Linked DNA regions of Homo sapiens. Changing the gene in region 4 together with the main gene of any one other region gives a genetic interaction. Each region holds a gene or a part of one and is shown on either strand. Other genes may lie near its edges.

Region 1 (6,424 bases), on a different chromosome or scaffold from region 4:
TTGCAGTGGGCTGAGATCGCGCCATTGCACTCCAGCCTGGGTGATAGAACGAGACTCTGTCTCAAAAAAAAAAGGAGTACAGGCTATAGGGTCACAGTGCTTGATTTCAAATCTCACCTGTGCCACCTAACTTTATGACTCTGTGAAAGTTACTCCTCTGCTCCTGTTTTCTCACCTCTAAAACAGGTTGTTGGGAGGCTTAAAAGAGAAATTACATGTAAAGCACTTAGAATAATAAGCACTCAATAAATACTATGACGACTACGAGGGCAAATCAACTAATAGAATACTATGACTCTATTTCTGTATATATTTGTACATATTTGTATATATAAGTATATACATGTTTGCACATATAAGTATATGCACGGAAGATGTAGTATTCAAACAAATTATTGGGATTGAAAGAGTTTAGCCTACCCTAACTTAAATGTGTTCAGAACATTTACGTTAGCCTACAGTTGGGCAAAATCATCTAACATGAAGCCTATCTTACAATAAAGTGCTGACTATTTCATGTAATTTATTGAATACCATACTGAAAGTGAAAAACAGAATGCTTGTATGAGTACTCACATATCACTTTCACACCATGGTAAAGTCAAAAAATTTTAAGTCAAGCCCTAGTAAGTCAGGGACTGTCTGTAAATTGCTTCAATGTCATCCCTCATCTTCAAACATGTCAGTGGTTTTCTATTACCTTTTGGATCAAATCCAAACTACCTACCAGACCTTGCATGTCCTGGGTCCCGCCTAGCTCTCTGGCCATTCTTGTCCTTCATTCACTATAGACACAGCTTCTTTCAGTCCCACTAATGTGCCAAACTCTTGCTTGACTTCAAATGCTGCTGGAATGCTCTTTTCTGTATTCTTTCCAAATCAGGTTCATGACCATCAGCTCAATTAAATGTTATCTTCTCACAGAGGCTTTCCCAGATCACTCTTATTAAATTAAATCTTTCCTGATTTTTCTTTCTCAACTCATTTGTTTTCTTCATAAAAGTGCCATAATTTAAAATTATTTCATCTGTCTGTTTTTGTTTTGACTCCTCTAGAATGGTAGCTTCAAGAAGGCAGTATCATGGGATATTTTCGTTTTGTTTGTTTGGAGACAGGGTCTCGCTGTCACCCAGGCTGGAGTGCAGTAGTGCTATCTCGGCTCACTGCAGCCTCGATGTCCTGGCCTCAAGCCCTTCTCCCACCCCTGCCTCCTGAGGAGCTGGGACTACAGGCTCATGCCACCATGCTCGTCTAATTTTCGTATTTTTTGTAGAGATGGGGTTTTGCCATGTTGCCTAGGCTGGTCTCAAACTCCTGAGCTCAAGTGATCTGTCCACCTTGGCTTCCCAAAGTGCTGGGATTACAGGCGTGAGCCACTGCACCCAGCTTTGTTTTGTTTTTAAGACAGAATCTCACTCTGTCGCCCAGGCTGGGGTTCCATGTTTATGTTTATTTTTATACACCACCAGGGCCTACTACTATATAGAACTTAACAAATATTTGTTGGGTTAATAAAATGTTATCCCATTTATGAGATGGTTCCTAAAGTAATATTCTCATTTATGGTGACAGTTTCTAAAAACACATATAGGCCGGTGCCGTGGCTCACACCTGTAATCCCAGCACTTTGGGAGGCCAAGGTGGGCAGATCACTTGAGGTCAGGAGTTCGAGACCAGCCTACCTAACATGGTGAAACCCCATCTCATAAAAACTAGCCAGGTGTGGTGGGAGGGACCTGTAGTGCCAGCTACTCCAGAGGCTGAGGCAGGAAAATCGCTTGAACCCAGGAGGCAGAGGTTGCAGTGAGCCAAGGTAATGCTACTGCACTCCAGCCTGGGCGACAAAACAAGACTCCATCTCAAAATAAATAAATAAATAAATACACATATAAAGCTTTAAAATAGGGCTGGGCATGGTGGCTCACACCTGTAATCCCAGCACTTTGGGAGGCCGAGGCGGGTGAATCACCGGAGGTCAGGAGTTCAAGCCCAGCCTGGCCAACATGGCAAAACCCCATCTCTACTAAAATAGAAAAATTAGCCGGGCATGGTGGCATTCACCTGTAATCCCAGCTACTCAGGAGGCTGAAGCAGGAGAATCACTTGAACCTGGGAGGCAGAGGTTGCAGTGAGCTGAGACCATGCCATTGCACTGCAGCCTGGGCGACAAGAGTGAAACTCTGTCTCAAAAAAAAAAAAAAAAAGTTTTAAAATATCACAATGTTATTTCAAGTTACTCTTTTGACAAATGACTATTTATACACAAGTCAATGGCTTCCAAATTTTCACTTGTAATACCCAGTAAGGAAATAATTTTACACTGCAATCCAATAAACACCATATACATGAGATATTATAGGCCAGGCACAGTGGCTCATGCCTGTAATCCCAACATTTTGGGAGGCCAAGGCGGAAGGATCACTTGAGCCCGGAGTTTGAGGCCAGCCTGGGCAACATGATGAAACCCCATCTCTACAAAAAAAATACCAAAAAAATTAGCAGGGTGTGGTAGTACATACCTGTAGTCCCAGCTACCTGGGAGGCTGAGGCGGAGGATTGTTTGAGCCCAGGAGGCAGAGGCTGCAGTGAGCCAAGATGGCACCACTGCACTCAAGCCTGGACAACAGAGCCAGACTGTCTCCAAAAAAAAGAAAAAAAAATACATTATATATAACTGAACAAAGTTTCACAAAATTTTACCCTTGATAAGAGAGATGCACTTTGATATTTTCTATCAATGTCATAAGATATTACAATCATTTTTATGTGATTTTTCTAAACTACTAAATGGTGGAAAGATAATGACATGTACTACTTTCATTCATGATTTCAACAACTCATGAATGCACTGATTCAAACAATGCAAAATTAATCTGCCAGGGAAAGACAATTCAATTATATTACTAATTCTAAACTACCACATTCAAACTCCAGTATCATACTCTAACCAGTCATTAATCAAAAAAATGGTAAGCTACAGACACAGGACACTTAAGATTAGGAACCTCTTGCTAAAGGAGGGGCCCCAAAGTGACATCAGATTGGAAAGAGAAGGATGAATACCAATGTAAATCTTCCCTCTCTCATCTAATAGCAACCCAACTCTTGAAGACTCATAAGCCAAAAACTTTGGTGTTATCCTTGACTCATTTTTCTTTCATTCCCCAAATCTGGCGCATCATTAAATCCTATTGGCTCTTCCATCACAACACATCCAAAATCTGACACTTGTTCTGGTACAACCCACTATCTCTTGCCTAATTACTAAAACAGCCTCCTAACTGGTCTCCTCAATTCTGCCCTTGTCCTCTTAAGAAGGCAAAGCCAGCTGGACTTCCTGGGTGGAGTGGGGACTTGGCAAACTTTTGTGTCTAGCTAGAGGATTGTAAATGCACCAATCAGTATGCTGTAAAAATGCACCAATCAGCACTCTGTGTCTAGCTAAAGGATTGTAAATGCACCAATCAGCACTCTGTAAAAATGGACCAATCGGCACTCTGTAAAATGGACCAATCAGCAGGATGTGGGCGGGGACAAATAAGGGAATAAAAGCTGGCCACCCCAGCCAGCAGCATCAACCTGCTCTGGTCCCTTTCCACACTGTGGAAACTTTGTTCTTTCACTCTTCACAATAAATCTTGCTGCTACTCACTCTTTGGGTCTGTGCCACCTTTAAGAGCTATAACACTCACCGCGAAGGTCTATGGCTTCATTCTTCAAGTCAGAGAGACCAAAAACCCACCGGAAGGAACCAACTCCAGACACACTCTTCCTTCAGTCTTTCACAACAATGTAGTCAGAACGATCCTATTACGCCATTAAGTCACATCATGTCACTCTTCTGCTCCAATGATTTCCCATCTCAGAATAAAAGCCAAAGTCCTTCCTAAAACCTGTGAAGTTGTACATGATTTGTCCTCCCCTGATCATTCTGATCTCATGTGCAACTATTCAACCACTGTGGCCTCCCTGACTGTTCCTCAAACATACCAGACATCCTCCCATCTCAAGGCCTTTGAACTTGTTTCCTCTGCCAGGAATGCTCTATGCTCTTCCTACAGATACCCTCATGGCTAGCTCCTTTACTTTGCTCCTGGCCTTTACTTAGTCATCTTCATAAAGTTATCTCGGCACCATCGCTAAAATTTCAAACCCTCCTCCTCACACCACATAAATATTCCACAGTCCTCTTCCCTGTATTATTTTTCTTTTTTTTTTCATTTGTGACGGAGTCTCACTCTATCACCAGACTGGAGTTCAGTGCCACAATCTTGGATCGCTGCAACCTCCAACTTCTGGGTTCAAGTGATTCTCCTGCCTCAGCCTCCCAAGTAGATGAGAGTACAGGCACATGCCACCATGCCCAGCTAATTTTTGTATTTTTAGTAGAGATGGGGTTTCACCATGTTGGCCAGGATGGTCTCAATCCCGACCTCATGATCCATCCGCCTCGGCCTCCCAAAGTGCTGGGATTACAGGCCTAAGCCACCGTGTCCAGCCCCCTGTATTATTTTTCTTCTTAGCACTTACCACTACCTAATGTAGTATATATTTTAGTTATTTACTCTGCTTATCGTCTGCCTCCTGTGCCATGTAATCTCCATGAGGGCATAGCTGTTTATTCACTACTAAATCCCCAGCACCTAGAACAGTGTCTAGAACATAGTAAAGGCTTAATAAATATTTGAATAAGTGAATGAATGAATAGGCTTGGAATGAACAAGAAAACAGAATAAATAAGAATAGCTAATTAGGCTGAGCACAGTGGCTCACACCTGTAATCTCAGCACTTTGGGAGGCCCAGGCAGGAGGATCCCTTGAGCCCAGGAGTTCCAGACCACACTGGGCAATAGTGGGACCCCAATTCTTTTTTTTTTTTTTTTTGAGACAGAGTCTGACTGTCGCCCAGGCTGGAGTGCAACGGCACCATCTTGGCTCACTGCAACCTCCACCTCCCGGGTTCAAGCGATTCTCCTGCCTCAGCCTCCTGAGTAGCTGGGATTACGGGTGTGTGCCACCACGCCCAGCTAATTTTTTTGTATTTTTAGTAGAGACGAGGTTTCACCATTTTGGTCAGGCTGGTCTGGAACTCCTTACCTCATGATCTGCCCACCTTCGCCTCGCAAAGTGCTGGGATTACAGGTATGAGCCCACACCCAGCCAGTGGGACCCCAATTCTACAAAAAATTTTAAAAATTAGCCAGGCGTCGTGGTGCACACCTTTTCCCAGCTATTCGGGAGGTTGAAATAGAAGGATCACTTGACCCCAGGAGACTGAGGCTGCAGTGAGCTGCACTCCAGCCTGGGTGAAAGTAAGACCTTGTCTCAAAAAACAAAACAAAAAAAACAAAACTGCAGGTAAAGAGCTGCAGCTCAAGCTCCAAGAGAAACCTTGGCACATTAGTGATGTCTCTGGCTATATCAGCATGTGGTTGAAACAGGTTAGTTACTTCTGGAATCTTCACAGAGGAAAAAAAAAAAGAAAGAAACAGGTTAGCAACTATTACTTGAGACTGAATTAATGCTCTCTGTAAGGGCTGAGTGTTCCCTCCAAGCTCACCATCTATTCTGAATCAATCAAGAAAAAAAATGGAGGGAAATAAAACCACAAATGAAAAACATGATTTTTTTTTTCTTTTTTTGAGATGGAGTCTCACTCTGTCACCCAGGCTGGAGTGCAGCAGCACCATCTCACCTCACTGCAGCCTCCACCTCCCAGGTTTAAGCGATTCTCCTACCTTAGCCTCCCAAGTAGCTGAGATCACAGGTGCCACCAAGCCTGGCTTATTTTTGTATTTTTAGTAGAGACGAGGTTTCGCCGTGTTGGCCAGACTGGTCTCGAACTCCTGAACTCAGGTGATCTGCCCGCCTGTGCCTCCAAAAGTGCTGGGATTGCAGGCATGAGTCACTGCGCCCAGCCAAAAAACTTGATTTTCTACCCATTATGAACCATGCTTTAGCATGAAACTTACTATGAAGCAAATACCAGAAGTCATAGCTAAGGCTAGAATTTTGAAGTAATGCTATGCAGACAAGAGAAATCAAGGGATCTGTCAAATCTGCTACTAATTGATTGTATGACCAGGATCTTTCTGAACCTGTTACTTGTACCTCTGTTAAAAAAAAAAAATCACTACTATCCAAGTCACCCTCCACTAGCTTTTTTTTTTTTTTTTTTGGAGTCTCGCTCTGTCGCCCAGGCTGGAGTGCAGTGGTGCAATCATGGCTCACTGCAATCTCCGCCTCCCAGGTTCAAGTGATTCTCCTGCCTCAGCCTCCTGAGTAGCTGGGATTACAGGCGCCCACCACCAGGCCCAGCTAATTTTTGTATTTTTAGTAGAGTCGGGGTTTCACCATGTTGGTCAGGCTGGTCTGGAACTCTTGATCTCGTGATCCGCCCGCCTCAGCCTCCCAAAGTGCTGGG
Region 2 (6,424 bases), on a different chromosome or scaffold from region 4:
CCAACACTATTACATTGGCAATTGAACTACAACATGAGTTTTGGAGGGGCCAAACAACATGCAAACCATAGCAGCAGGTTTAAAGGTAAAAGGATGGGAGAAAAGTACACAGAAAGATATTCTGGAGAAAAGGCACAGAGTGAGCCAAGGCACAAGGTAAAATGTTTGACTGGTTAGAGACGCTAGATTATTTTGTGTGGCTAAGACAAAACAAAGCTGGTGGGGAGTGGCAGGAGGTAAGTCTAGAATGGCACAATGGGGCCAGACTGCGAATGGCAAACAAGTATGTGATCTTTTATTCTAAAGAAAATGTAGTATGATTAGCACACACACACACAAAAATTATTGGCCGGGCGCAGTGGCCCATGCCTGTAATCCCAGCACTTTGGGAGGCCGAGGAGGGTGGATCATGAGGTCAGGAGTTCAAGACGGTGAAACTCCATCTCTACTAAAAATACAAAAATTAGCCAGGAGCTGTGGCAGGTGCCTGTAATCCCAGCTACTCAGTAGGCTGAGGCAGGAGAATCACTTGAACCCGGGAGGTGGAGGTTGCAGTGAGCTGAGATCGCGCCACTGCACTCTAGCCTCGGCGACAGAGCAAGACTAAAAATAAAAATGAAAAAATTATTATCCATGGTATTATCATGGTAGTACTGACTAAAAGAGGGACATGTGTAACAAAATCAGTAAGGAGGGTACTCCAAGAATCCATGTTAAAGTTAATGAGGGCTTGAACCCAAACATAAAGGATGGAAATGATGTAATAAAATACCTTTTGAAAGTTATATTAAAAAATTTTTGGTTAATAGTCTAGTTAGAGGTGAAAGAAGAAAGCAGAGGAGTCTAATGCAATGCGTGACTTGTAGCTCAGGTAAAGGGGTGGCAGGTGACGCTTAAATACTAGAAATATAAGAAGCAGCACAGGTTTGGTTTTATCTTTGAGAACAATGGAGTGGAGGTATGCTTTAGATGCAATTATTTATGGGATATTCAAAACAGATATATATGAAGCAAAAAACTTGGGCCCAAAAAACAAGTTTGAAGGTATATTTGGGAGTTACCAGTAATATAGGTAACTGTTGAAGCTCTAAATATAGAAGACAAACTAGAGGAGCTTGTTTCTTGAAGAATTCTTGTCACACTTGACATTTTTTACAGAGATTTCTTAAAACAGGGGCATATCTTCTTTGGCTAACATATGCAGACTAAAATGAAAGAGTATAGTATATTATAAAATCAATAAAAGGTAAGATAAATTTAGGCCTAAAAATAAAGAATAAATACACTCAGTTGATTCTGAAGCTCTAATTTACAGATGCAAAATTGTACCAGTACATTAACTCATATGTCAAAACAACATCTAGAGAAACAAAAAATGAAAGTAAAATGGAAAAAGATAAAAGAAGTGAGGCAAGGAGAAGAGAATGGACAAAAGGAGATAGGAAAAACAGGAATTTTTTTTTTAAGGGCTAAAATTTTAGTGAATCAGATGTGGAAAACAGTTGGATTAACATTGAGATCAAATGAGAAAGGAGCAAATAAGGAAAGAGGTATTACAAACCAAGAGTAAAAAAGGGAAAACAAAATAACAAAAGCAAAAACTATTTAAAAAGAATAAAGGAAGACGTGATAATGAAGTAAATTTAAAAAGTACGGAATAATAAAAAGAAATTGCAAAAAATAACTTTTGAAAATAAACATACTAATAACTTGACAATAAAGTGAAATGTGTAAGACAAACGTATCTGTGTCATTATTTAGGAGTAGTGAAAAGTACTCTTAAATAATAATTTGGTATCTAGCAGGCCTGGATTTGAATCTACTTTAACTTGCTAGCTATGTGACCTTGGGCAAGCAAAGAAACTCCTCATAACCATTGTAATAATACCAGCAAAATGCCTTACACTTACGGCTCAAAAAATGAAGGAAATGAGAGAAAAAAGTATAGATTACTATATGGAAGTCAAATTTCTAGTGACTTTTCTAATCCAAACATGAATTGTTACAGTACTTGAAATAAACTTTATGAGAACTGAGTGACTACATTGCTTCAGATAGTTTTATACTGCTAGGTCAACGCTGCCTGACAGTAATAAGAATAGGATGTGAGATTCAATATGCTCATTCTATCTCAAACTCTGTCACACATACAATGACTGCTATTTACCTTCCTCCTGAGCCATCTGGGAAAAAACCAACCAACCAACCAACCAAACAAAAGAAAAACCCACCAGGTAGGAGTCAGTTAGTTCTGCTAACTAACTAACCAAAAACCTTAATTGTATGGCCATCAGCACCCTAGCCCTTTGTCATGAAAGCTACCAATAAGGTGGAAATTTAAAATATGAGATATTTTATTATACATGTTTTATTAAACCCTATATGTGCAGAAATGATTGTCCATTTTCCTTCTTAACTTGCTTTTGTAAGACTTATTAAGTAGAAAATATAAATCTCAAGCTCCTTAAATGTGATTTTGAGGAACTGAGACCAAAACAATTTTTTGCTGTGGAACCAGATCCTTGAATGCACTACAGGAAAATATTATTTGATATGAAATTTTTTTGGTACACACAATTTTTCAAAAATATATCTCTCTCCACAAAGTTAATTCAAATTGTAGAATTCTTCCAAGTCACAGATGGAGTTTTCAAGGCTCTGGGTACTTACCTTTGAGTTCCACATCCTTTATCTCTGGAGCTCTTAACTGAGGGAACATGGACCATTAGGTCATGAACAGACTTTGTAGTCTTTGAACAGCCTGAAACAGTATGTGATACTTGATGTGCATGTACACAGGAACATTTTTCTAGAGTAATGGCACATACCTTTCATCAGATTTTCAAAGGTTTCTCAAAATGCTCAAGAACCATTGTTAGATATTTAAATAACCAGAGTGTACAGTGTCCAAATATTTCCAAATTTTGACACTTGTAAGATGTCTTAATTAAAACAAGCCATGAAGTTCAGCGTCACAATAACCAGAAAAGCACTTGTGAGAGTAGTTCTATGTCTTTACTTCCTAGTGGTTTACACACTCTTTAACCCATATGGCAATCTGGCTTCTGTCTCCAGTGCTCTGGAATTACTTCTGCCTGTATGATTAAGTTCCTCATTGTTAAATTCGAAAATACATTCTTTGGTATTTATTTGACCTCTTGGTGGTAATATAGCGTAAGAGCACAGACTCTGGAGCCAAACTGCCTAGGTTCAAATCTTAGCTCTATTACTTTCTAACTCTGTGACTTTGGGCAAATGACTTAACTCTCTCATGCCTCAAAGCAGAATCCTTTGTAAGGTTTATTTATATAGTGGTGTAAAGAGTACTTACTTCAAAAGCTTTGGTCAGTGTGAGAAATAAGCTCCTAACAAAGAAAGTGTTATGTAATAGTTATTATCTGGTACCTCTGATCACAACATTTTTGAAAATCACTTGAAATCTGCCTAAGTTTCATTCTGCCTTTGATGGCTCCTTATTTTCATCTCCCTACTTCAGGCTTCCTCCCTAATATATCTTTTATGCCAATATTATGATCACTTGAAACTATAAATCTGATGCCATCCTTGGCCACTACCATTAAGATGGTCTAAACTCCTCAGCATGATAGACAAGTCCCTTTATGATAGTGTACCCATCTAGTTCTCATTCCTCAAGTCTCCTCTGTTGTCTATGCTTACCCTATGGGCTAAGCTGAATCAAGCTGTTACATTTCCAAAATATGCCTCACTGTCTTTATTCATGCCTTTGCACATGCCATTGACTCTTCCTAGAATGCCCCATTCTCCTTCTCTAGAAAGTCTTCTCTTAACATACTTCTTCCCAAAATAAATTAGGTGTCCTTTCTTAATATGCCTCCAATAACCCCATACAGTATTTATCCCATTCTATTTTAGATGCCAGTTTGGTTGATGATACATTTCATCTAGTCAGATCTTCCCACTGCCTCTTATAAAGAAAACCAGGAGCCATATTATGATATTCTTGTTCTCTAATTTTTCTGCTGCCCTGATCTTAAACCACTTTCTTCTCCCTTTGTTGACAATTACCCCACCCCTTATTTCTTAATTAGCCCAACAAGATTAGATAGAAATGTATCTACAAAGGATATATGTATATAAATTAACTAGATAACAAAACTTCACACTGAAGTGAACATTCTACAAGTATTTATTTCATTGCTGACCATTAGGTTGCAGCATGCAACTCTCAACAATGAGCTGCCCCTCTCCACTCCTATAGAAGCTCCAAATACTATGGTACCACTATGTAGGTTTTCAGCCTTTCAAAGGCTTTTATTATTAACATCATCATTACTTCAGCAGGAGCCTTTTAGGGACTTAAAAGCACTGATTATCTATAAAAAGTAACTTCATATTTCATGCACAAAATTCCCAATTGGCAGATTTAGGTCCATAAAAGAAAGGAAAAAAATTATTCTAGTTATATAAATTATCAGGAATAAAATAGCATTTCTCCTTGCCTTGTTATAAGGAAATAATATATTTTTCCTTACCAGGAATCAGGATAGTATCTTTGATGATCCCTCAGGGTTATAAAATTGCTTACTGGTTAAAGTTTTTTGCCAAAGATATTAAGAAATAAAAAGTTCGCTCATTTTCCTGTGCAATTTAAAGAAATATTTGCAGTATGTACAGGAATTTTAAGTTATATTGCAGACCCTGGCAATAATATTTAAAAGGCCTATTTTCCCCATTAAAAAATTCTACCTCAGAAGGTAAAAGGAAATCTCCATCATCCCTGAGCAGAAAAGGAAAAAATCATGGGTACTTTAATTAGTTAATAGAAACCACTGTAAATGAGTTATCTATCTCCAGAACATTCTCAGAGAATTTACACGAACTAAAACAGGAATGAAGTGCTCTCAGAGACTTTTTCTCAGGTAAATGTATTTAGTAGTTTGAGTAGTTGATCTGCAAAAACTTTAACTTTAATTAACTACATAGATGAATATTTTTTATTTTGAAATTTGAGAATGTCCTAAGAGGATGTCTACAGGATATGAAACTACTGGGTGCAGGAAAATTTTTTAAATGTTAGCAAATTGTGGCAAGAGGAAAACAAACAGTGGAGAAAACTGTGGTAGAGAAAGTAAAGAAGGGGCAGGAGAAAGCTGTAATTATAACCTGGGCCTGCCTTTGTTCTCATGAAGCCAGGGGCCTCTCCATATCCTATACTTGCTCTTACGCTAATAACAAACCAAATGCTGCAAAATAAAAGTAATAATGACCCAAACTAATTTAAGTCTTTTGTTTAAGGAGTAAATGAGAGAAACATTTTAGCTTCTTAATCAAGGAGTGCTATAATTTCAAGGCATCTTAATATAATTCACTTACCCTAAAGCAATTGTGCAATAAGCAAATTATAAAAGGAAAACAACAAAGGTTAACTTTCTACAGGGGCCAATAGACAAGATCTGTGGAGCACAGCAATTAACCTTCACATACTGGAGTCTTGTTTAAAAGGCCATCAAAAACTCAGATTACTGAAAATCACAAATGTCACCAACAAAAGGAATGTTGATTAGAGTCAAAAAAAAAAAAAAAAAAAAAAACACCTTCCCAAAGGACTGCCTTCTTTGAAGGAATTTCAGAATGTTGCTAGCACAGGTTGACTAAGTTAAATCTCATTGATGGCTCCATCAGAGAATGAGAATGCCCCAGCCAGTGCTGTTTTTAAAATGCACTGGGAGGGAAAAAACGAAATTAACAATCTACTATTCCCTAATATATATGGCTTGGCACCCAGAGAAAGCCTCTGCCCCCGAAAGAGACTTTCTACATAGGGTTAAGCTTCATTAAATGAGGTGCAACCTTTCATTTTCAGGGCATCTCTTTTCTTGCAAGGTCTTTAGAGGCAGAAGTTCCACTTGGATTCTAATACACATCTCTGTGAGCTCAGTTTCCTGAAAATATACACCTACTGGGTTCTAGGTTCTCCCTTACCAGTGACTGTATTCATTATTTCACAGCCACCAGAATCGGACATACACTATTAACATGATGAAAAATACAGCTACTGCTGCAAGTTTGGCATAAGTGGAACGCATGTTCAAGTACTTCGCATCCTGGCGGTATTTCTTGGACAGACTGGACAAATTGTTAGCCTTTGAATCCAATGCTGTCAAAGAGGAAAAAAGGAAAACATTAATTAGTCCCTGGAAGTATTTTACCGAAAGTATTAAGGCAAACCAAAATGAGCAGCACTGCAACAACCATGAATCTTAAATCATCATTTTTATTTTAAGGCTAACATTGCATATACTAATTAACTGATGATGCTGATCAGATGATGTCTGAATTTTTGAGGCTATATAGTAAGGTGGTTAGAAGTGCAGGTTCTGGCCTCAGACTCTTTGGTTCAGATATCACCTGTACAAGTTATGTGACATTGGTCAAGTCATGT
Region 3 (3,500 bases), on a different chromosome or scaffold from region 4:
CTCCCCTTATCCTTTCTGATAAATTTGAGAATCATTTTGACAACCACCAAATATTATTCAAATTAGGATTTTTTTTCTTTTTTTCTTTTTTTTTTTTTTTGAGACAGAGTCACGCTCTGTTGCCCAGTGGCGAGATCTCAGCTAACTGCAACCTCTGCCTCCTGGGTTCAAGTGATTCACCTGCCTCAGCCTCCCGAGTAGCTGGGATTACAGGCGCCCACCACCACGCCCGGCTAATTTTTTTGTAGTTTTAGTAGAGACAGGGTTTCACCATGTTGGCCAGACTGGTTTTGAACTCCTGACCTCAAGTGATCCGCCCACCTCGGCCTCCCAAAGCGCTAGGATTACAGGTGTGAGCCACTACGCCTGGCCCACATTAGGATTTCTAATGTCACTGCAATGACTGCAATAACTAGGGGTAAATCCATAATTTTACATTTCTGACATAGGAACACGACATCTGTTTACTGAAATCTTCTACATCTCTCAGTACAGATTTGTAGTTTCTCTATATAGGCCCTGTGTACTTCTTTTAAAATGTTAGTTTTTTATTTTTTATATGTCACATTACTTTCTGAATGAGATCTTTTCTTCCTATTACATGATCTGTTTCTTTCAGATACACAGGAATACTACATTTATTTTTGTATATTTACTTTGTAATTAATCACCAAACTGAACTTTCCATTTAGGATGTCTTAGTCTTTATTCTCTTGGATTTTCCATTATTTGCTAATAATAATCATTTATCTCCTCCAACATTCATACCTCATCTTTTCCTTCCTGTTTGGTCTTATAGCAATGACTGTAACTTCTAGAACACTTTTCAATAGTTGTGATGGAATGCCTTTTTTGCTTTCTTCATGATTTTAATAAAACAACAGCCAAGAAACAGTAGGACTTAGATGGAATTGAGGATCAATTTTATTCTGGTTTATATACTAAGCAATGAGACTGGGGCAACAGTAGAAAAATCAGAATATGGGAGACTCAGGGTTTAAAAATATCATGGGGCCGGGCACGGTGGCTCATGCCTGTAATCCCAGCATTTTGGGAGGCTGAGGTGGGCAGATCACTTGAGACCAGGAGTTTGAGACCAGCCTGGGTGACAGAAAGATACTCTGTCTCAAAGAAACAAAAAAACAAAACAAACAAACAAACAAAAATCATGGGTCAAGGGAGAAGAAAATCTATAGTTGTCATCAAGGCAGCAAGATACCCATAGACTTGAAGCTGGTGATTATTATTAAGCGGGGGCTAAGGGCTACCCCAATCAAGCCCTACTTATGCTTAGTGTGGTTTGCAAATAATAATAAAAAAAAACCACAACTACCTTAATTCTCTAAACACACAGAAATGATTTACAGGTCACCAGATGACTGAATAGGTAAAATAACAACTCAATATTCCTTGAATAACTCACAGTAGTTATAGCTGAAAGAATGTAAACTATCAATTTGGCAAGGCTTACACTGTGTTCTAAGTTTAAATTCCAGCTTACTATAATCACAACATCACTTTTATCACCAATGTTTTTTACTTTGCCCTCAAATAAACTTACAACTGGCTTATACAAATAAGAACAGGGTTTTCAATATTTAAGAAGGATTTAAAAACATTTAAGTATAGAAACAGAATGGTCAAATTTTACTTCCACTATTTATAAAGGAATTTTTAGCAACAAAGCATAGAGAATTTTTTTAAAGCAATCTACTCTTCACTTGGAACCAGATAGCAGGTATTGTTTAATCCCTCTTCTAAAAATTCTATACACCATAATTCAAAATTTAAACATCTTCATTTACAGTGTGCTCAGGAAGTATCTCATCTCATCTCTCTTTTTTCCCCACCAAATTTCAGACAGATGTTTAGTGGCTTTTTCTTTTCAAAATCAGTATATATTTCATTTTTTTTTTTTTAAAGAAATAGCCCCGTGTGGTAGCTCTAGCTCATGCCTGTAATCCCAGCACTTTGGGAGGCCGAGGTGGTTGTATCTCTTGAACCCAGGAGTTTGAGACCAGCCTGGGCAACATGGCAAGACCCGCCTCTCTACAAAAAATACAAAAATTAGCTGGGTGTGGTGGTGCACACCTGTGGTGCCAGCGACTTGGGAGACTGAGAAGTGGGATGATCACTTGAACCCAGGAGGTCGAGGCTGCAGTGAGCGGTGATTGTACCACTGCCCTTCAGCCTGGGTGACAGGGTGATATCCTGTCTCAGAAAAAAAAAAAAAAAAGAAAGAAAGAAAGAAAAAAAGAAAAAAACCTATTACATATACAACTTATTTTGCTTTTGAAACAGAGTTCTCACTCTGTCATCCAGCTGGAGTGCAGTGGTACAATCTCTGCTCACTGCAACCTCTGCCCCCCAGGCTCAAGCCATCCTCCCACCTCAGCCTCCTGAGTAGCTGGGACCACAGGCATGCACCACCATGCTCAGCTAATTTTTTGTATTTTTAGTAGAGACGGAATCTTGCCATGTTGCCCAGGCTGGTCTCAAACTTCTGAGCTCAAGTAACCTGCCCACCTCAGCCTCCCAAAGTGTTGGGATTAAAGGCGTGAGTCACCACACCTGGCCTATATATGCAACTCTTTAAAAGTAGCATTATAAAACTAGATTTATTGGGAGGCTGAGGCGGGTGGATCACCTGTGGTCAGGAGTTCGAGACCAGCCTGGCCAACGTGGTGAAACCCCATCTCTAAAAAAACATAAAAAATTAGCTGGGTGTGGTGGCAGGTGCCTGTAATCCCAGCTACTTCGGAGGCTGAGGCAGGAGAACCACTTGAACTCAGGAGGCGGAGGTTGCAGTGAGCCAAGATCGTGCCATTGCACTCCAGCCTGGGCAACAAGAGCAAAACTCCGTCTCAAACAAACAAACAAAAAACAAAACAAAACAAAACAAAAAACTAGATTTAAATGACACCCTGGACTTTTTACATGGAAGTGGGAAGACATTTTAGAAGCAATGAAATTATATTCCTAAATTTAAAACCAATAAAGTAGGCAGAGGGTACACACATATTTCTCTCTCCCTCTAAATACATAATTTATGTACATCCCTAAACTTTGAGGAACACACAGGTTTCCCACGTTGTCTTCCACTTTGATGGCTACACCACGGTGAGCTCACAGCTCAGCAAACATTTAGCAGGGATACTAAACTCTTCTTTTTAGAGACAATTCCAGATCTTTGAATTTGTCCTGTCTTGAATTCAGGGCAAGATAAGCATCTCCTCCCCACCCCTAACCTTGCCCCCTTGCCTGGGAAAGACGGCAGGGCAAAGCTGTTCAGCTGTCTACTAGGCTGACAACTCACAACTGGGAATGAGAAGTTAATGGGCTAGGTGATGTTTGGGATAGCGGGACTAGTTAGTTCTATACCATTTAATAAGCTCTGAAAGAGGTGCGTGGACCCAATTATTGGTGGGGATATATATAACCTTCTTTAGTCTTAGTTTTGGACATTAGGTGTCAATTTTAAGGAAAAAGAAGTCTCAGTA
Region 4 (6,424 bases):
ATATATATATACATATATATATTATATATATGTATATATATTAATTATATATTATGTATATATTTTATATATATATGTTACCTATATATATTATATATATGTATATATATTAATTATATATTATGTATATATTTTATATATATATATGTTACCCATTTTCTCCCTGGTTAAATATGATTAAAATACTTGGTATTAGCAACATCTAGTGTTTTCAAGTTAACATCAAACCACTCAATACATTTTCAAGTGAATGATCATTTCTTCAAGTAACAATGCTGTCTTAAGCACTTAGTACTTGATTTATGATGTGTTTCTTGTCTTCTGTAATTAACTTAATTTGGCAAACTTCTCATGACCTGTTCAGAAAGATTAAGTGATCAAACACAGGTAACATCATAGAAGTAACAAGCTTCAGGAATTGGTAACCTGTCTCTGACCCCTCTGGCTACAGCTTAACATTATGATTCCCTCACTTCCTACACTCTAAACCATTAGATTAGTTTCTGTAGCTGAATCCTGATTTGAAAAAGTAAATAAAGGATGTTTCTAGGGGAAATGCCAGAGGAAAAAGAAAAAAAGCTTCTCATAAAAATCAAGATCACCTTGCCTTTCAAAAGGCATCACGAATTTAAGGAATTCATATGTTAAATATGGTAACAGCAATATCACATTTAAAATTTTGTCTTTTTATAATTTCCCCTGAGGACTAAAGGCTGTGAGGCATGCTTATTACTTCTGTTATCCAGTTAATAAATTCACTTACACAAGGATTTACCAGAAACAGAAAGCTTTTTCATTTACCACCATTTATGAAACATAAATAGGAACGGTCCTAATCAGATACTTAAAGGTCTAATTCTGAGAAAAAGTTTTATGGGTTGGGGGAGGGGTACAGAATAGGACATCACATAGTAACATTACCACGTAACATTTATTCTAATTGCTTTTAAATAGCAAAGTAAAAATAAAAAAAATTATGTAGAGCTAAAACCATAACATGTATTTTTAAATACAGTATTTTTCTTGGTTTATACTTAAACATAAAAATAATACAGTGTGATCTTTTAAAATTAGCTAATTTTAAAGAGTCAACTGAGATGGTGTCAACATTACTCACAACCAGTGCAATTTAGAATAAACCAAATAAATTTACTTGTGTCAGAACAAATAAAAGAAAGTTGGAAATACAAATCTATCACTTCAAATTTAATCTGACATGCAATTATTCTGTCTATTCCAGAATTGTATGGCAATTTAACTGATTAAGTCAGAATCATTTTTTCCCTCAAATCATGATTTAATTTTCTGTTTCCCAAAAGGATAGTAACAGAATCACTGCTGCAATCATAAATATCATATAAATCACTAGCACAGATTTACCAGTGCAACAAAGAAGGATTTATCTGGAAAATCATTGTGAGTAGGTTCACATTAAAGTTTTTCATGTGCATTAATCAAATGTGTCTGCTTCTACTGAACATGCTAAACCAATTACCTAATTGACGAGCAAATAGTAGCCATATTCTGTTTCATCATTAAGTGGAAACAAAGAAAGAAAAGCAGTTCTTGAAACCTAATTTTCCCTAATTTATAAATACGTAGAAAAATCCCATACGAAATATTATATACTCTATACCGGTTTATATTCCTAGATATGATTAAGAAATTCTCACTGAGATCCCAAAGATTTACCTAGTTATCAAGAATGTCATTCTCTGAAAGTTATATACTCTTTTACATTATTCACAAATACTGTATTTTTGTTTTCATACAGTTAGATTTTGCTTAAGTAAATCTTTCATAATTCTCTGTAAGATCTATAAGAAAACTCACCAGAAAAAAACACAAAAACAACCAAACAATAAAAACTTGCTTATCAAATTCAGAGGTCAGTGATTCATGCATTGTAATAACTGAGATACCTTGCTTGGGCTTAAATTTACCTTTACATAATTTGTGGAAAATACATGGGTAGACAAAGTAATAGGAAAAATGAAATGGACTGTAAATGAATGAATCTCAAAAACATGCTGAGTGAAAGAAGCCAGACACAGAAGAGCACATAACCTATGAACTCATTTATACAAAGTTATAGCACAAGCAAAACTAATGTTTGGTGATAAAAATCAGATCAGTGCTTGTCTGTCTCCCAGTGGGGGATGAGGTTGACTGCAAAATGGCAGAAGGAAAGTTTCTTGGGTGATGGAAATGCTATTTTGAGTGGGGGGCTGGTAAGGGGATGTACACATTTGTCAAAACTCAGACTGTATACTTAAAATATATGCACTTGATTACATGTAAATTATATCTCAATATACCTCAAGGGGGTCTTGTCACACTGAAGAGACAGGGAAAAGGAAAAACATAATAACTTATGTTTTAATTTCTTTAATTCTCAGAATATTTCATTATGGCCATCTTGCAGAAGAAAAGATACAGCAAGAGATGTTAGGTAATTTATCCAAGTTTGCATAGCTAATAATTATATCAGAGTCAAAATTTGAACCCAGACAACATGGGTTCAAATCTGTAATCTTCTCTTTACTACATTGAACTAGCTTCCATGGACGGGACTCATGATGGAACACAAAGATGGACAGAAACACTGGATATCCATATGGGGAGCAATGGACCCCCTATTTCACATCATACATAAAAATCAATTCCAGGCCAGATGCGGTGGCTCACACCTATAATCCTAGCACTCCATTGGGAGGCTGAGACAGGAGGATTACTTGAGGCCAGGAGTTTGAGACCAGCCTGTGCAATACAGCTGGACCTCATCTCTACAAAAAATTTAAAAGTTAGCCGAGCACGGTGACATGCGTCTACAGTACCAGCTAGTTGGGAGGCTGAGGCAGGAGGATAACTCAACCTGGGTGGTTGAGGGTGTAGTGAGCCATGATCATGCCACTGCACTCCAGCCTGGGCAACAGAACCAACCAGATTCTGTCTTAAAAAAATAAAAATTAAAAATTAAAAATAAATCAATTCCAAATGGGTTGTGGATTAAATACGAAAAGTAAAAGAATAGAAATTCTGAAGACACACAGAATTCTTTATGACCGTGAGTAGCAAAAGATTTCTTAAACAGAACACAAAAAACACAAACAAATGACTGAGGCATTCGAACACATTTCATTTCAGAACTTCTATTCATCAAGATCATATGAGCAAAAAAGTAAGAAGTTATACATATTTGCTTATACATATAACTAAAAAAGGGCTCATAAGCAAAAAACTAAAGAAATAAGTCATGCAAACCAATGAGAAAAACATTTCACGAAAGAGGACATCCAAATGGCAACTGATCATCAGGGACATGCAAAATAAAACCATGAAGTACCACTCTACACATGTACCAGAATGGCTGTAATTACAAAGACTGACAGAACCATGTGTTGGTGAAGATGTGGGGCTATTAGAACTCTTACCGCTGGTGGGAGTAAACTAATTTGGAAAATTGCCTTTAACTACTAAAGTTAAATATACATACATTCTATGACCCATATTTTCACTCAAAGGTATACAGAACTGCACATATATTCCACCAAAAGACCTGTACAGCAATATTCAGTATAGTTTATTCAAAATAGCCCAAACAGAAAATATTCCAAATGCATAGCAATAACTAAATTATAACATTCATACAATGAACTACAGAAGAAAATGAATGAACTACAGACACAAACAAGGATAAATCCCATAAACTGAATAATGATAGAAATATGCAAGACAAAAATGAATACATACTGGCTGATTCCATAAACTATAGGGTTATAAGTGAGTACTCTTAAGGAATACAAAAGGAGAAATTAAGAGGACTTACCAAGAGAGCTTTGGGATGCTGCAATGTTTATATTTATTAGCCTGGATACATTTACCTTATATTAGTCACTGAAAGGCACATTTATGACTTGCATCCTTTTTTCTGTTATAATTCTTATTTCTATGTTATTAATTTAGTAAAAATTGATTTTAAAATAGTTATGTCAAAAAAGCACTCTGAGTAGCTGTTTCTCATATCTTAAAAACAATTATGTAGTATGCATAACGTTACTTTTATATTACACAAATCTTTTTTTTTAATATTACATAAATCACACACACCCACACACCCCCAAGCCTACTCTGTGTGGAACTCCATTACAGATCTGAGCTATCCCAAACTGCATTTGAAGAAGCACAGTCTCACTAATATTTATAAATACTCTGACTTAGAATATGCCAACAAAACTAACATGCTCTATAACAGACAATAAAAATACACAAAGGTGACTTTCAATGATGTGATTATGGAGGCACTACATTTGTAAAATCTTCTCAATTTTCTCCAACCAGAAGGGCAAAAACGAACAACAAAAAGCCAGCACCAAAACCAACATAACAGAACCCACGCCCACAGGTGACATTTTCAAAAAAACTAGGTAACAGTCAATTTTCCAAACCCTAGAATGTGACTATGTCATCAAGAGCAGCATGACCAACAAAAGATTAACAACTGTGTGGTAGGAGGAATAGAAAGTAATAGAGGACAACCTACTACTCTACAAGAAACCAAAAACCAAACAAATTATGAATTCTTAATCCACTAAACAAGAAAACCTGAGATGATGCAGCTGCCAATGGCCTAGAAGTCTTCATAAGCTCCAAAACAAAGATAAATGTAAAAAACTGCTCATAAATGTGAGATTAGACAAGTCTAACCGTCTAATATCTTAAAATTTCTAAAATATCTAGCAAACATCCTCTTCCAGAAGGACAAAACCTCACACCCTGAAGAAAAACAATTAAAAACTGAAACCAAACTGAACAGGGCAGAAACACCAGGGCAAGAAGGAGAGATGGTTCAGACAAGGAGGGGTGAGGAAAGGAGTGATGCCCAGAGGCAGCAATCCCAGAAGAAAACAAAACAAAAAGGAAGAAACACAAACTGTAACAACAATATGTAACATTTAAAGTGAGAGCAACACCTCAGAATTCAAGACTTTGAGGGCTCTAGAAACAGAACAGAGGGCTGAAGCCAGAAAATCTTTCTGAGTCACACTGAGTTCTAAGACAGACTGGCCATTCATACTCAGTTCTAAGAAAGACCGGCTATACAAAGAGGTCATATTTGAATTCTCTTTAGCAAAAAAGGAGACGGCCATAGAATAGCCAAGCTGGGAAAGCTACCCTAACCTATCTCCAACTCCCTGCCATTCCATAAACATTGTCTCCTAATAGTCCAGGAAAACTACCTCATTTAAACATGGAGGAAAGAAAAATATGAATCAAATTCATATTTTTATAAAATACAGAAAATGACAAAATAATTTGAAAGAAAATGAATAAAGGACATAGAAAAATGAAGTCTAATACACGTATTACTGAAACCCTGAAAAAGAAAACTAAGCAGAGAAAAAAATATTTGTAATTCTAAAAGCAACTTTTCTCAAATAAAAGGGCTAAACTGATGTACTAAATGGGTGTACTGTGTATTTGGGAAAACTGACCCAAGAATAATCAATAAAACAAATCATAGTAAGACTACTGGATTTTAAAGATAAAGAAAAAATTCCTTTGCGTAACCAGACAAGTCACTTATGATAAAAAGTAAGTCAAGACGGCATCATATTTCCTGACGGCAACATTTTATTCTGAAACAGAATGAAATAGCTGGGCATGGTGATGCCTGCACCTGAAGTCCCAGCTACTTAGGAGGCTGAGGTAAGAGGATCACATGAAGCCAGGAGTTCATGGCCAGCCTGGGCAATATAGCAAGATCTCGTCTATATTAAAAACAAAACAAAACTGAACAGTATGCTTAAGATACTTAGGTAAAGTATTAACGGGTATATAAAAAGCCAAATTGTCCTTTAAATATAAAGGCTATAGACAAATAAGGCTAAAGACATAAAAAGATGTGTTTTCCCATGAGCAAATTTCTAACGAAAAATAATTTCCTAAAAAATCTGCTAAGGACGAACTTTAGAAAACTAAGATACAAATGGAGAAGTTTCAGTAAAGGATCTGAAGTGTAAGCAGACTGCACAAACTTTGTTATGCAGTTTGATTAGTTTAAGGCTTTCTTCCTTCTTTTCTATTTCTTGAGATACCTATGATTAATAATACACTCACATACCCAATCTGCTTCTGAAATGTGACGTGATATTTATTTATCCTTTCTGAGTTTTTAGAATTACTTTGCGTTTGCCAAATGCAGAACCACTGAGATTTCCATATGGTAAGGCTAATTATGAAATAATAATACTAACAGATTCCTCTTGAGGGGAAAAAAAGGTAATCTTAAAACTACAAATTAATTCAAAACACAACACATTTGATAAAGCCCCAAAGGCATATATAAGTCCAATGCTAGACATACGACTTTGTAGTTTGTAGTAACAAAACTAAGAAATACATTAACTGACCTACATAGCAA
Region 5 (5,914 bases), on a different chromosome or scaffold from region 4:
CACGTGGCTCAAGCCACTATCATCTTCCTTCTGGATTATTACAGTAGGCTGCAGTTTAGTCTTGGTAGACCTGGTGGGTGCCTTTCAAGTGAGTTAAGATGGAGGTCGTGTCACTTGCTTGCTTACAGCCTCTCAGTGGTTTCCCTCTTTCACCTGCAATCAAAGGCAAACTTTGCAGGGGTGGCCAGGGCCCTGAGTGATCTGCCCCCCATTTCCTCTCTGACCTCCGCTCCTTCCTTGAGCATGGTAGGCAGTTCACAGTTGGGCCTCTGAGTTTGCTGTTCCTTTTGCCTAGGACTGTCCAGCCCCTCCATTCTCCCCAGCATCCCCATGGCTGATCTTGTACTCACTTCAGATCTCTACTCAAATGTCTGCTTCTGTTAGGCCCTGCTTGCCCATCTCCGACCTTCTTGTTTCCATGGCTCTGCTTTGTCTTTCTCATCTTCAAACCATGTTTCTCTTGTTATGTGTTCCTTGTCTGTCTCTCCTCACTAAAGTATAAATTGCTTAGGGCAGGGCCTCTGTTTTGTTTCAGTGCAATATTCCTTGTACCTAGAATGATGCCTAGCATCTGGAGGAGGCTTAATGAATATGTTTTGGAAGGGTGAATGAATGTGTCCGATTACTAAAATCAGTCTCTATAATTTAAGTGGTTTGGGATGAGATTTTTTTTTCCTTTTTATTAGATAGAGTCTCGCTCTGTTGCCCAGGCTAGAGTGCAGTGGCACAATCTCGACTCACTGCAACCTCCACCTCCCAGGTTCAAGCAGTTCTCCTGCCCCAGCCTCCCAAGTAGCTGGGACTACAGGTACCCATCACCATGCCTGGCTGATTTTTGTATTTTTAGTAGAGACGCAGTTTCACCATGTTGGCCAGGCTGGTCTTGAACTCCTGACCTCAGGTGATCCACCTGCCTTGGCCTCCCAAAGTGCTGGGATTACAGGCATGAGCCACTGCACCTGGCCAAGATTGTTTTTCTTGAAAAGACCGGTATATGGAAGTAGACAGCTCTAGAGTATGTTAGGTGGCAGTGGGATATTATTTTGAGTTAATTTTAAGCTATAAGCAGCAATCCACTCATTTGGAAAATGTCAGAAGAATTAATTATAGATGCATAAAACCAAAGTAAATTAAATAAGATAAGCCAAACAAGACAATTACAAGTAATGTTAAGTAACACATCGAAGCAGTTGTTTTTGGATTAATACCACCTTTTTCATTAAATATAAATTGGAATTGGATTTATAAATTAAAGGGAAGTGGTTTCTCTAATTTTTTTTTTTTTTTTTTTGAGATGGAGTTTTGCTCTTGTTGCCCTGGCTGGAGTGCAATGGCGTGATCTGGCTCACTGCAACCTCCGCCTCCCGGGTTCAGGCAGTTCTCCTGCCTCAGCCTCCCAAGTAGCTGGGATTACAGGCACGTGTCACCATGCCTGGCTAATTTTTGTATTTTTAGTAGAGACGGGGTTTCACCATGTTGATCAGGCTGATCTTGAACTCCTGACCTCAGGTGATCTGCCCGCCTCGGCCTCCCAAAGTGTTGGGATTACAGGCATGAGCCACCGAGCCCAGCCTAGTTTTTTTTTTTAAATTAAGCTTTATCATAGGAAGTTGTTAAATTTTTAATAAGTACATTTCTGCTTCTCAGTTGATGTCATAACTTAGTTATATTCTTAGTAAAAAGCAAAGGCTTAAGGCTGGGTGTGGTGACTCATGCCTATAATCCCAGCACTTTGGGAGGCTGAGGTGTGCACATCACTTGAGTTCAGGAGTTGTAGACTAGCCTGACAATACAGCAAAATCCCGTTTCTACAAAAAAATACAAAAATTAGCTGGGTGGCATGCGCCTCTAGTCCCAGGTATTTGGGAGGCTGAGGTGAGATCATTTGAGCTTGGGAGGTCAAGGTTGCAGTGAGCCAAGATTGTAACACTGCACTCCGGCCTGGCCAACAGAGCGAGACCTTGTCAAAAAAAAATAATAATAAAATTGGCCAAGCACAGTGGCTCACTCCTGTAATCCCAGCACTTTGGGAGGCCGAGGTGGGTGGATCACCTGAGGTCAGGAGTTCAAGACCAGCTTGGGCAATATGGTGAAACCCCATCTCTACTAAAAGTACAAAAAATTAGCTGGGCACAGTGGCACTTGCCTATAATCCCAGCTACTCAGGAGGCTGACGCAGGAGAATCACTTGAACCTGGGAGGCAGAGGTTGCACTGACCCGAGATTATGCCACTGCACTCCAGCCTGGGCAACAGAGTGAGACTCTGTCTCAAAAAAAAAAAAAAAAAAATTATATAAAATTTTAAAAAAGCAAAGGCTTAAAAAGTTTTTAAGTATATATAGAAGATTAATGAACAATAGTTAACTTCCTAATGCTCAAATATTTTTGAATTTATTACATATTGTTTCAGGTTTGAAGATCAGCTTCAGCAATGGTTGTCTGAAGACTCAGGAGCATTTACGGATTTAACTTCCCTTCCCCTCTATCTTCCTCAGACTCTAGTGTCTCTTTCTCACACTATTGAACCTGTGATGAAAACATCTGTAACTACTAGCCCACAGGTGAGAAGAACGTATACATTTGGCATTTACATAAGAATTAAAGATTGAGAGAATGGCTGGGGAAAAAAGTAATATCACGATTTATCCTATGATGTTTTGATGACCGACAAATTATTAGCTCAAATTAGACCTTTTCTTAAACTTTATCCATATCATTGTTAAAGAGACCCAACTGATTTTGAGTTTCTGCCTACGAAATAAATGAAGAATAGAATTGAAATATTCTTAAGAACTGAATAAGACCTGTAACTGTGTGCTGATGTGTAATTAAGGGCATTAAGGTGATGACAGCAGCTTCTGTTGGAGCACATATTGTCTGAGCTTTGGCATTACCCAGACCTCTCTTCTGGGATTAATTTTTCCTGAGGAAAACTAATGAATGAGGAAGGTAAGCTCCCAGAAGTCAAGAGCCTCACCCAAGAGTGTTCAAGTAGTGAGTGGTCAGGTTGCTTTTCAAAGCCAGATCCAACTGGCTCCAAAGCCTAAGGTCTTTTTACCTTACCATTCTTCCTTCAGTGGTTAAAGATGCAAAAACAGAGTTTCAATCACAGATATGTGCCACTGAACAGGTAAAAACTGTGCTCCTGGACTGGCTTTAGGAAGTCCTTCAATAGAGGAGAAAAGCAAATTAAAATGATGTACTGTTTCCATTCATCAGTTTGGCAAATACTTTAAAAATATTCATACCCTTTGAATTACCAATTCTAACCTAAAGAATTCTGACCTACCAGATATTCCCCAAAAATTAATGTATAAAAATGTTTACTGTAGCATTATTGTATGAAAGTCGAAACAGAATAAATATCCGAAGATGGGAGTCTGATTAAACAATTATAACACATTCATGTGATAGAATAATTCACAGCCCTTGACGATGATATTTTCTAAAAATGACTGGCTGGGCGTGGTGGCTCATGCCTGTAATCCCAGCACTTTGGGAGGCTGATGAGGGAGGATCGCTTAAGTCCAGGAGCTTGAGTCCAGCCTGGGCAACATAAAGAGATCTCATCTCTACAGTACATAATTAGCCAGGCATGGTGCTACATGCCTGTTGTCCCAGCTACTCAGGAGGCTGAGCTGGTAGGATCACTTGAGCCCAGGAGTTTGAGGCTGCAGTAAGCTCCGATCATACCACTGCGTTCCAGCCTGGGTGAAAAATGACTGACACTGGAAATTGTTCATGATAGAATACAAAGGCAAACAGTCTATATACAGATACCAGCTGAATGTACGAGCTAAATGAGGCTGGAAGGATATACAAAGGATAATTTTTTTCCCTCTGTAAAAATAAATGACTACTCAGATGAGGTTTCTAACATGATCCAGATCTAGTACCTTCCCAGAGATAGGTCGTGGTTTATTGACATCCCAAAACTGTTCAGTTTCTTTTTTATTCAAATAGAGTGACATGATGAGGGAGCAACTGCAGCTGTCAGAGGCGACAGGAACGTGTCTAGGCGAACGACTAAAGCACCTGGAAAGGCTGATCCGGAGTTCAAGGGAAGAGGAAGTTGCCTCTGAGCTCCATCTCTCTGCGCTGCTAGACATGGTGGACATTTGAGCAGCCTGACCTGTGGGGAGGGGGTCTCTCCCGAAGAGTTTCTGTTTTTACTCAAAATAATGTTATTCTCAGATGCTTGATGCACTGTTGGAAATGTGATTAATTTAATCATGCAGATAAACCATTTAAATGTCAGTCTCCCAGTTTTTCATAATGAAAAGTTGTTTCCCCTGTGTGACCTCTTCAATATTCTCCTATATTCATGACCTCCTCAGATTGTCACCCACCAGCATATGCTCTGAGGCAGTTTAGAGCTTACATTTCCATGTATAAAAGGCGATTCATTCTCTCAGCAAACTTGCAGTCCTTGATGTGCCAGACATCAGTGATGCAGAGATAAAGTAAGACACAGGGCCTCTGCCTGCTAAGCCCACCCAGCTTACATCCAGGAGAGTCAGGTACTTATGTACATAATTCTCAGAGAATGTGCATGAGGCGTGGGCCTGAATTGGTAGCAAGGAAAAAACAGAGGATGGAACAGGGTCTGGTTGGGTAGAGGAGAAACAGAATTCCCGGAGAGGAGTGCAGGGGTGTAGCTGGAGACAGTGTACTTGAGAGGACATGATGAAAGCGTGGAGGTACCAGCTTGGTTGTGTGGCCAGGTGAGGGGAACAGGCCAGCAGGGTGAGGTCAGAGATTCTTGTCACCTTCTTCTGAGAGCTGTGAGAACCCGTTGTTGAAGATTAGGCAGAGAAGTGATCTGGTCACATTTTCTTTTAAGAATGGCATGTAGGGCAGGAATCTTGAGAGGTGGGTGCTGCAGCCATCCAGGTGAAATTCAAAGGGAATAAGCGTGAGTTTGTTAGCAATTGGTGTGAAGAGAGGGGATAAAATTTGAGCCATATACAGAAAGAGGTATTAATAGACTTGGTGATGTTGCGTATGACCACCAATCTTAAACTGGCACTCAGCATCTCCTGACTGTAATCCTACATCCCCAGACTCTATTTCATGTCTTCTCATTCTCTTCAAACCTCCAACATTCTTAGATCATGTCCTCCTTATTTCACTGAGAAAACAACAGCACTAAGAAGAGAACCTCTTCCTCCACCAAATCAATCCCTGCTTCTCCAAACACACACTACTCAACTCAGGGATCTTTAGTGATTAGCTTCATGTAAAGACTTAAATAATGCTATTTCTTAATCTTGACTTGACATTGTTGACTTCCTACAATGGAAGAGGAGTTAGCTTCTCTTACACTGTCTTTCCCACAACATATTATCACCCCCACCCTCGACACCCACATTTCCTCTCCTATTAGTCTCCCTAAGCAGTTTGATATTGGCTGAAACCTGCATTCACAGTTTAGTATAACTGTATGTTTACCATTTCCTGTTGAGCCCTTTATTGGTTTATGATTACATTTCCTTTAGGTACAACTTTTGATTTTTCCTGGAGTTAATTACATTGTTTTTCTCATTTGCTTGGTTTTCTATGCTCTTGTCACTACTTTACCCAAAAGTCGCTGCCCTAAATGTAAAGCTCTTCCCAACAAAGTCATGTGCATCAGGTAATATGCTCCACTTTCTCTTCGAGATGTTCCTGAGAACCCCCTGTCTTCTTGCCATAACTTGGACATTTCCTGGATTCTGAATCATATTTTCCTCTTGCTTGGTTTTCTCTTCTTGATGGAGCCTGTCCTTTAGTAGCCTCCTGAGCTTGAATATCTAAAATGTCTTTATTTCTACTGTAATATTATCAAATATATATCTGGTCTTTGTCTCTGCCTTCTGATATACAACTCCTAAAATCCTTGAGATCTCTAAAGTGATGTCTTTTTGTATGCTA

The links.
Region 1: changes in EMC2 (region 4) and CYB5B together harm fitness more than expected from each alone (negative genetic interaction), as found in Homo sapiens cells (one large-scale study listed by BioGRID).
Region 2: changes in EMC2 (region 4) and SEC22B together harm fitness more than expected from each alone (negative genetic interaction), as found in Homo sapiens cells (one large-scale study listed by BioGRID).
Region 3: changes in EMC2 (region 4) and MBTPS2 together harm fitness more than expected from each alone (negative genetic interaction), as found in Homo sapiens cells (one large-scale study listed by BioGRID).
Region 5: changes in EMC2 (region 4) and MCM3AP together harm fitness more than expected from each alone (negative genetic interaction), as found in Homo sapiens cells (one large-scale study listed by BioGRID).

What each region holds. Positions count from the first base shown.
Region 1 is NC_000016.10:69,426,454-69,432,877, reverse strand, and holds part of CYB5B (cytochrome b5 type B), read right to left. Parts: intron 1-6,424. UniProt on the Homo sapiens protein: Cytochrome b5 is a membrane-bound hemoprotein functioning as an electron carrier for several membrane-bound oxygenases.
Region 2 is NC_000001.11:120,151,054-120,157,477, forward strand, and holds part of SEC22B (vesicle-trafficking protein SEC22b), read right to left. Parts: intron 6,140-6,424; coding exon 5,985-6,139; 3' UTR 1-5,984. UniProt on the Homo sapiens protein: SNARE involved in targeting and fusion of ER-derived transport vesicles with the Golgi complex as well as Golgi-derived retrograde transport vesicles with the ER.
Region 3 is NC_000023.11:21,863,617-21,867,116, reverse strand, and holds part of MBTPS2 (membrane-bound transcription factor site-2 protease), read right to left. Parts: intron 1-3,500. UniProt on the Homo sapiens protein: Zinc metalloprotease that mediates intramembrane proteolysis of proteins such as ATF6, ATF6B, SREBF1/SREBP1 and SREBF2/SREBP2.
Region 4 is NC_000008.11:108,479,131-108,485,554, reverse strand, and holds part of EMC2 (ER membrane protein complex subunit 2), read right to left. Parts: intron 1-6,424. UniProt on the Homo sapiens protein: Part of the endoplasmic reticulum membrane protein complex (EMC) that enables the energy-independent insertion into endoplasmic reticulum membranes of newly synthesized membrane proteins.
Region 5 is NC_000021.9:46,233,477-46,239,390, reverse strand, and holds the end of MCM3AP (germinal-center associated nuclear protein), read left to right. Parts: intron 1-2,411; coding exon 2,412-2,562; intron 2,563-3,064; exon of another isoform or gene 3,065-3,167; intron 3,168-3,964; coding exon 3,965-4,123; 3' UTR 4,124-4,258; downstream 4,259-5,914.